2 linked regions of the Homo sapiens genome follow. The protein of the gene in region 2 purifies or fractionates together with the protein of the main gene of each other region. This does not show direct contact. Each region holds a gene or a part of one and is shown on either strand. Other genes may lie near its edges.

Evidence for each region.
Region 1: the proteins of SYN3 (region 2) and WRNIP1 purify together in Homo sapiens (co-immunoprecipitation; one large-scale study listed by IntAct). This does not show direct contact.

The regions. Positions count from the first base shown.
Region 1 is NC_000006.12:2,778,583-2,782,408, reverse strand, and holds part of WRNIP1 (ATPase WRNIP1), read right to left. Parts: intron 3,147-3,826; coding exon 2,917-3,146; intron 1-2,916. UniProt on the Homo sapiens protein: Functions as a modulator of initiation or reinitiation events during DNA polymerase delta-mediated DNA synthesis. In the presence of ATP, stimulation of DNA polymerase delta-mediated DNA synthesis is decreased.
Region 2 is NC_000022.11:33,009,850-33,013,675, forward strand, and holds part of SYN3 (synapsin-3), read right to left. Parts: intron 1-3,826. UniProt on the Homo sapiens protein: May be involved in the regulation of neurotransmitter release and synaptogenesis.

The sequences.
Region 1 (3,826 bases), on a different chromosome or scaffold from region 2:
CCTCCCACAGGGGAAAGACCTGCAGGACCCACGGCTCAGCCTGAGTGATTCTGGTTTCTGAGAGCCAGGGCAGATGGATGGGTCAGCCCAGCTACTGGATTTCTGAGAACAAACTGAGTGTCTCCTGTGCAGGGCTCCCCTGGTGAAGTCAGAGTGCTATGGACACTGGCCGAGAGGGTGTCCTGGATGACATCTGCATGGTTCTGGCCCACTCCCTCACCCTGCTGGCCCAGGCACTCAGGCTACGCTCTGCTCCTCTGCAGGGTGGAGGAAGGCGGGGAAGAGGGTAGCAGGTAACAGGCCTGGCTAAACTCACGGGCATGGGGGCTGGAAGAAACTACCCACACCACTTTATGTCAAATTTAAACTCCCCCTACACAGGTTAGTCATCTTTTCCCACTTTGTCAATGCCAGGGGCAATACCACCAGTATAATGGACAAGAGCACAGGCTCTGGGACCAAACAGCCTGGGCTGGACCCCCAAGCTCATGGGCCATGGGCAAGTTCCTGATCCTCACTGTGCCTCAGGTTTCTCATCTGTAAAATGGGAAAAACGAGACCACTTACCTCACAGGGCTGTATTAAATAACACACGCCTGGCACAGAGCAGGCACTGTAAAAAGATTCTTTTGCATCAGTGATAGATACTAGTATTATTCTATGCTACCTTCCATGTTTGCTTTTATTACACACTGCTTTATAACCTGAAATCTGACGACTTCTATAGAACCCCGATGTCAATGCATGGCAGAGAGTTTGCTCTCATTTAGAAATTCCTTCACTCTGATGCAGAAACATCACTGGATCCTACTAGTGGGTAACTATGAACTAGGTGGCATATACAAAAATAATCACAACTCTGGGGGTGGGTCTTTGTCTCACTGGAGTTATAAAAAGGCCCAAGAGTATAAGCTAACAGGTTTCCAGGGCAATGCTTCCACTATCCCTATTTATAGAGCAAAGCCTGTAAAAGCAGCTTTCTCCAAGATCTGAATGATATTTATGTGTCTGCGGATCCACTGTGGGGCAGACATGTTGCACTGGGGTGGGGTGTGTAAACACACTCATACTGGGAAGATGTATAGGATGTGGGGTTCTTAAGGCGCTGGCACTAGGCAGCGGCACTAGGCAGCCTCCACCACCCCCCAGCTCCAAGCTATAGACAAGGTGATCCCCACTGTGCAGAGCTCTGCAACGTGGAGCTCAGGAAGTGGGATTCCTAGGACTGAACCCCTCCAAGATCCGCTCTGTATGTGCATGGACGGGTGACCCCTCTCAGGAGCATGATGTAATGGGTGAGATCAGTAACAGCATGGCAAGGCTGGTGTGGAGGCAAATGCGGACGGGGGGAAGGACAGTCTTGGGAACCAGTAAGACCTGGATTTACGGGTCAGTTTCACCACTTGCTTTGTTATCTTAAAATGGGGGTAATATTAATAGCTATCTCCATAAAGCAATTTTGAGAATTTAAAAAATGAATACACCTATAAAATACTCAATGGCTGAGTGTTAGTGAATGCCATGTTATATGGATCTCAAGTGACAGTCTGATAAAATGTCAAAGAACAGTCCTAGTCGTTCCAATCAAAACAAGGCAAATCCTTTGGGACACCTACAAGAAGAGAGAGAGAGACCGCTGCTGCTGCACTTCAGAAACAATGGCGATCCCGGCATGGTGAGATTTTTTTAATGTCTTAAAATCTTTTTTCTTGTTCATATCTACATTTTTTCTATTTGACCAAAAGTCAAGCAGGGCTCTACACACCTAGAATGTGTTGCTTTTCAGACTTTGCAAGCATTCACGTCATGCTCCAGAGCACTAGGGAGAGCCAGCCATCTGAGCAGGCCCCGCTGAGGCACATTCACGTCACAATGTAGACAGGATTATTTATTCAACTTGCCAGTGTGTCCTTAGCACTAATGAACACCCCTGAGCTACCATCAGCTGAGGCACGCTAAAGCCAAAAAGCTTTGGTCAGCCCCCCTAGGTCATGCAGCGAGTGTGCTCACCCACGAAGAGGCAGCGCTTGGAACCAAAGTCATTCTTAAGCCCCTCCACCCCTTCTCTAACCAGTAAGGACTCTCCATTGTCACGTGGCACAGCCTACGTGAGATCAGGAACATTCAATTATCAGCCTCCTTTTCTGGCAGAGCTTTGAAAAGTGTGGAAATTATATTCCACAGTTACTGCAACATGATTCCATCCAAAGTCCCACAAATGCTCAAGCAGCAGAAGTTTGCTAATCTACAGTATGTTATATTCATCTCCCACTTCTTTTATAAAAAGATGCAAATGTGCTGTGCTAATGACATTTAATATTGCTAAGTCACAGATTTAATAAGAGCTGGTATCAAATCTGCTATCTGTAAATGCAGTTCTACAAAAACAGATAAGTGCACACAGCAAAATTAAATTTTTGAAAAAGCTACTACATAAAATAAAAACTTCAAGATCCATGACTATTTTTTAGTATAGACTCTAGAAATAAAGCATTTTAATTCTCAATTAAAACTAATAAGTCATTATGACAAAAGTCCTCTTTTTATTTACTGCCGTTGTAAATGATCACAAAACATATTCATTGTCAAGTGAATGCACAGGCTTTCAAAGGTGATTGTATTCTGCAAGGTGGGGAATAGCCAACTACCTTCTAAGGTGAATGTGCAGCCTGCCATTTCCAACCCCAAAACTCCTCTAGATTCTCAACAGGGCAGCTTCTGCTTCATGCCTCTCTTCGGAAAGGTCAGCCCTGTGTAGAAGGCTTAATACCAACATGCAGATCCACCTGAGAATCACTGGAATGCTCTGGACCCAGCTGGAATGCTTCCGGAACCCAGTCAGGCTTCCGGAAATGAGAATGTGTGCACACACTTCTTTCCGTATGGTTTCACTCTTTCCACAGGTGAATTACTTACCTGCCCGGTCATATAAAATGTGGGATCGCTGTAGGCCCTCCTTCACGTCATTCTCTGTGATCAGAACTCTACTGGGAGAATAGGATTGCCCACTCTTCTTACAGAACATCTTCCTAGAGCTTAACCTAGCCAGCACCGCCAGCTGCAGTCCGTTCAACCCAGCTCGGGCGTCACCGTCACTGAGGTAAGCCAGGGTGTCTACTGCTTTATCCTCTATGAACATGGCGGGCCTGAAACACAAGCAGGGTTAGTTACGGTCACACTCAGGCTGCATACTTCTTGTTCTGCACATGTCTTAGAAACTCATACTTCTCAGCAAGGACACTGAAGAGTTCAAGGCCTTTGCCTCTTATTCTCACCTTTGTCAATGTGCTTAAGCATCATCAAGACTACGAACTGACTGGGGCTCCTAAGTCACCAGGTTATCGCCCTGTATCTTATGAGTGTCGAGGGTATCTCACTGCATAGGTTCATACATCTAAGTCTGTGTGAAACAGACACTGACTGGCCTGGAAAGTCACTGTTGACAGGTGGTCTCTCTGGTTCTACCCTGCACAACAGTGAAAACTTTATTAGAAATGCTAGCACCTCATTACCGTGTATGGAAAACATGTTCCAAATGCAGCCTACATCCGATGAGACAGATGTGCTTAGACCACTTTCCACACAGGGGAGAGTCAGCATTATATCTGAATATTAGCTCTGAAGGGCTCCAGATCATGCAGTTCAATTCCTTCATTTTAAAAACAACAAATTGGGTCCCTAGTTACTCTGAGCACAGCAGGTCCTAGAAGCAGGTCTCAGGATTCTCTTGGCCTGGGGAATCTTGGGATGCTGCAGTAGGTCATCTCATAGTGGACACTAATCATGCAAAATCCGCACAGGGTAGCAGAGAGGTCATTAGCCTGGG
Region 2 (3,826 bases):
ATGTTTTGATAAACAGAAACTTTTATTTTTATGAAACCTAATTTATCAAATTTTTCATTTATGGTTAGTGTTTCTGTGTCTGTTCTTAAAAATCTCTGCCAGGCTGGGCGTGGTGGCTCACGCCTGTAATCCCAGCACTTTGGGAGGTCAAGGTGGGTGGATCACCTGAGGTCTGCAGTTCGAGACCAGCCTGACCAACATGGAGAAACCCCGTCTCTACTAAAAATACAAAATTAGCTGGGCATGGTGGTGTATGCCTGTAATCCCAGCTACTTGGGAGGCTGAGGCAGGAGAATCACTTGAACCTGGGAGGCGGAGGTTGCGGTGAGCCAGGATCGCATCATTGCACTTCAGCCTGGGCAAAAGGAGCAAAACTCTGTCCCAAAAAAAAAAAAAAATCTGCCAACCCCAAGATCACAATCATACCATCCTACAGTGTCTTGTAGAAGCTTTATAGTTCTAGCTTTTCTGTTGAGGTCGGGGATCCAACTAAACTTGATTTTTGAGTGGTATGAAGTAGGGTATGAAGTTCATTTTCAGCCCCGTTCATTTATCCAGGTTGCCAGCACCATTTATGAAAGTATTTTTCTCCCACTAAATTGCTTTGGTGGCCTTGTTGGCACCAATTGGCTGTACATGTGTGGGCCTACTTCTGGACTATGTTTAATATGCTCCACTGATCTCTCTGTCTATTCTTACATTTATTGATTGCTATGGCTTTCCAGAAAGTTTTAAAATCAGGTAAAGTGAGTCCTCCAACTTAAATTTTCTGTCTCAAGATTGTCTTAGATATCCTAGGTCCTATTTTCATATGCATTTTAAAATCAACTTTTATGAAAAAGTCTGTTGGAATATTGTTCGAGATTGCATAGACTGAGTAGAATTGTCACTGAACAATATTGGGTTCTCTATGAACACAGTAGACCCCTCTACTCAGAAATTTTTTTGTGATTTTCAATATAGAGATCTCGCATACATTTTGCTAAATTTATTCCTATTTCGTTTGGGGTTTTTTGCATGTTTTTAAAATGACACTGTTTTCTAAATTTCACTTTCCATTTGTTTGCTGCTAGTATAATATTATTTTCAATATACTGACATGCTCAATTCAAGTATTGTTGCTACTAGTTGTTTATAGATTCCTTGATACTTTCTATTTAAATAATGTCATCTATAAATAGAGATCTTTACTTCTTTCTTTCTAATCTGAATGCCTTTTACTAATTTCCCTTATCTGACTGTCCTAGCTAGGACCTCCAATATTGAACAGAAATCATGAAAACACACACCTTACCTTGTTCCGAATCTTAGGGGGGAAACACTCAGTATCTCACCATTAATGTGGTGTTAACTAGAGGTTTTTGGTAAATCCACTTTATTAGATTCAGGCAGTTCTCTTCTATTATTATTTGGATGAGAGTTCTTATCATTTGGGAGTTGAATTTGCCAAGTGATTTACTAAATCTATTGAGAGGATTATATGTTTTTGAAACCATTTATTTGCTTAACAATGTGGTAAATTATACTGATTGATTTTTAAATGTTAAACCAAACTTGCATTCCTGGGATAAACCCCACTTGATCATAGTGTATTACCCTTTTTATATATTGGTGGATTCAATCTGATAATATTTTGCTATTTTTGTGTCTATGTTCATGACAAAAAAACATTGGTCTGTGGTTTTATTTTTTGGCAATGTTTTTGCTAGGTTTTGGTATCAGGGTAATATTAACCTCACAAAATAGGTTGGGAAGCATTCCCTCCTTTTCTATTTTCTGAAAGAGTCTGTGTAATATTGTGTTTTTTTTCTTAAATTATTGGCAGAATTCAACAGTGAAACCATCTGGGGTTGGTTTTTCTTTGTGGGAAAGTTTTTAATAATGAATTCAATCTCTTTTATAAAGCTATTCATATTTTGTTTTTCTTTTTATCTCAATTTTGACAATATGTGATTTCGAGCATTTTGTCCATTTCATCTTGGTTGTGAAACTTACTGGCATAAAGTTGTTCATAACATATCCTTTCTGTAGGATCTTATGATTCCTCCTGATATTCCTGATATTGGTAATTTGCTTTTTCTCTCTTTTTGACTGATCCATGTTGCTAAGAATTTATAAATTGTATTACTCTTGCAGGGCACCAACTTGCAGCCTTTTCAATTTCTCCATTGTTTGTTTTCTATTTCACTTATTTCTGTTTTTTATTACTTCCTTTCTTCTCCTTACTTTTGGTTTAAGTTTAATTTGCTATTCTGTTTTCTAGAGCCTTGAGCTGGAAACACAGATCATTAATTTTAAACTCTTTTTTTCCCCAATATAAGTATTTAAAGCAATGTGCTTCCCTCCCAGAAATTCTGACATATTTTCATTATCATTCATTTTAAATTATTCTGTTTATCCCTTATAATTTTTTGACCCATGTATTACTAAAACATGCATTTAATTTTCAAATTTCAGTGCTTTTTAATTATTGTCTTGTTAATGCTTTTAATATAATTCATTTGTGATTCTTGAACACAGTCTATAAGGTTTTAAACCTTTGCCGTTCATTAAGATTAATTTTATGGTTCAATACAGTCTACCTTGATGAATGTTCCAGATGCACTTGGAAAGAATGCATATTTTGTGGTTGCTGGGTGTAATGCTCTACAAATATTACTTAGACTGCTTTCAAGTCCAATTCCCCAGGTAGCTGACACTCCCATGGTGACTTGCAAGCAGGAAGTTTATTAGGCAGTGCTTCCATCTATGCTCAACAACTGTGGGCAGGAATGAAAAGCAGATTTGGGCTGAGAGACAGACAGAACCATCACAGGTTCAACAGAGGTGCCAGTTGATTTTAGTGGGCACATGGACCTGGGGCATCTCTTTAGATGTCCTCATTTTCCAGCCACTCTGTGAGCTTATACTCTGCCCCCTGATTTGTCAAACCAGCAAAGCTGCAGCTCTCCACTTGAGTTCCAGCTGCTCCATGCCAGGTGGCGTGGGAAGAGCCACCTAAATGTATATTTCACTAAGTGGGTGTGGTTTTCCTTCCTTCAAGGGTCAAATCCTGTCCACCTCCTGTCTATTTTTTGTTTTTCTCCAGCAACCTCAAATCGTTTTAAAGATTTTTTCCAAAGTTTATCATTATCATCTGTGAGAGGTTTAGTTCAACTTAGGCTATGCCGTCATTACTGGAACTGAGCCCCTTCCATTTTTCAAATACCAGATGGAAAAGTTAAAATGTTAGGGTTGAAGGGATCTTAGAGTTTATTTAACAATTCCTTCTTCAGGAACTCTGGTCAACCTTCCATTGATATGAATTCCCTGACTTTGAAAAAAAATCACCTCTTACCATCTTTTGACCTACTCCAATGTTAGTCAAAGGCTTCTCAGGTAACTTCTGCCCACTACAGGCCCCAGTGGAACTTACAGGCTGGCAAAGGGAGGCCAATCATGAACATGCAGACAAACATTTATGGTTTAGGGTAAGTGCAAGTAAACAATACACAGAGTGTGGTCATCGAAATTCACTTGGGGCAGGACTTTTGCAGAGAGGATGGTTAGAGAAGGCCTCTCTGAGAAAGTTACTTTTAAAAATTTCATTTTCAATTGACAAGCAATAATTATATATATTTCTGTGATGTTTTGCTATGTTTACATTGTGGAATGATTAAGTCAAGCTAATTAACAAATCTATCATCTCACACACATCATTTTCTGTGGAAAAAAAATTTAAAATCTACTCTTTTAGCAATTTTGAAATATACAATGCATTATTTATAATGCATTATAGTGACTGTAAAGTCACTATTCTGTGCAAAAGATCACAAGGGCTTATCTC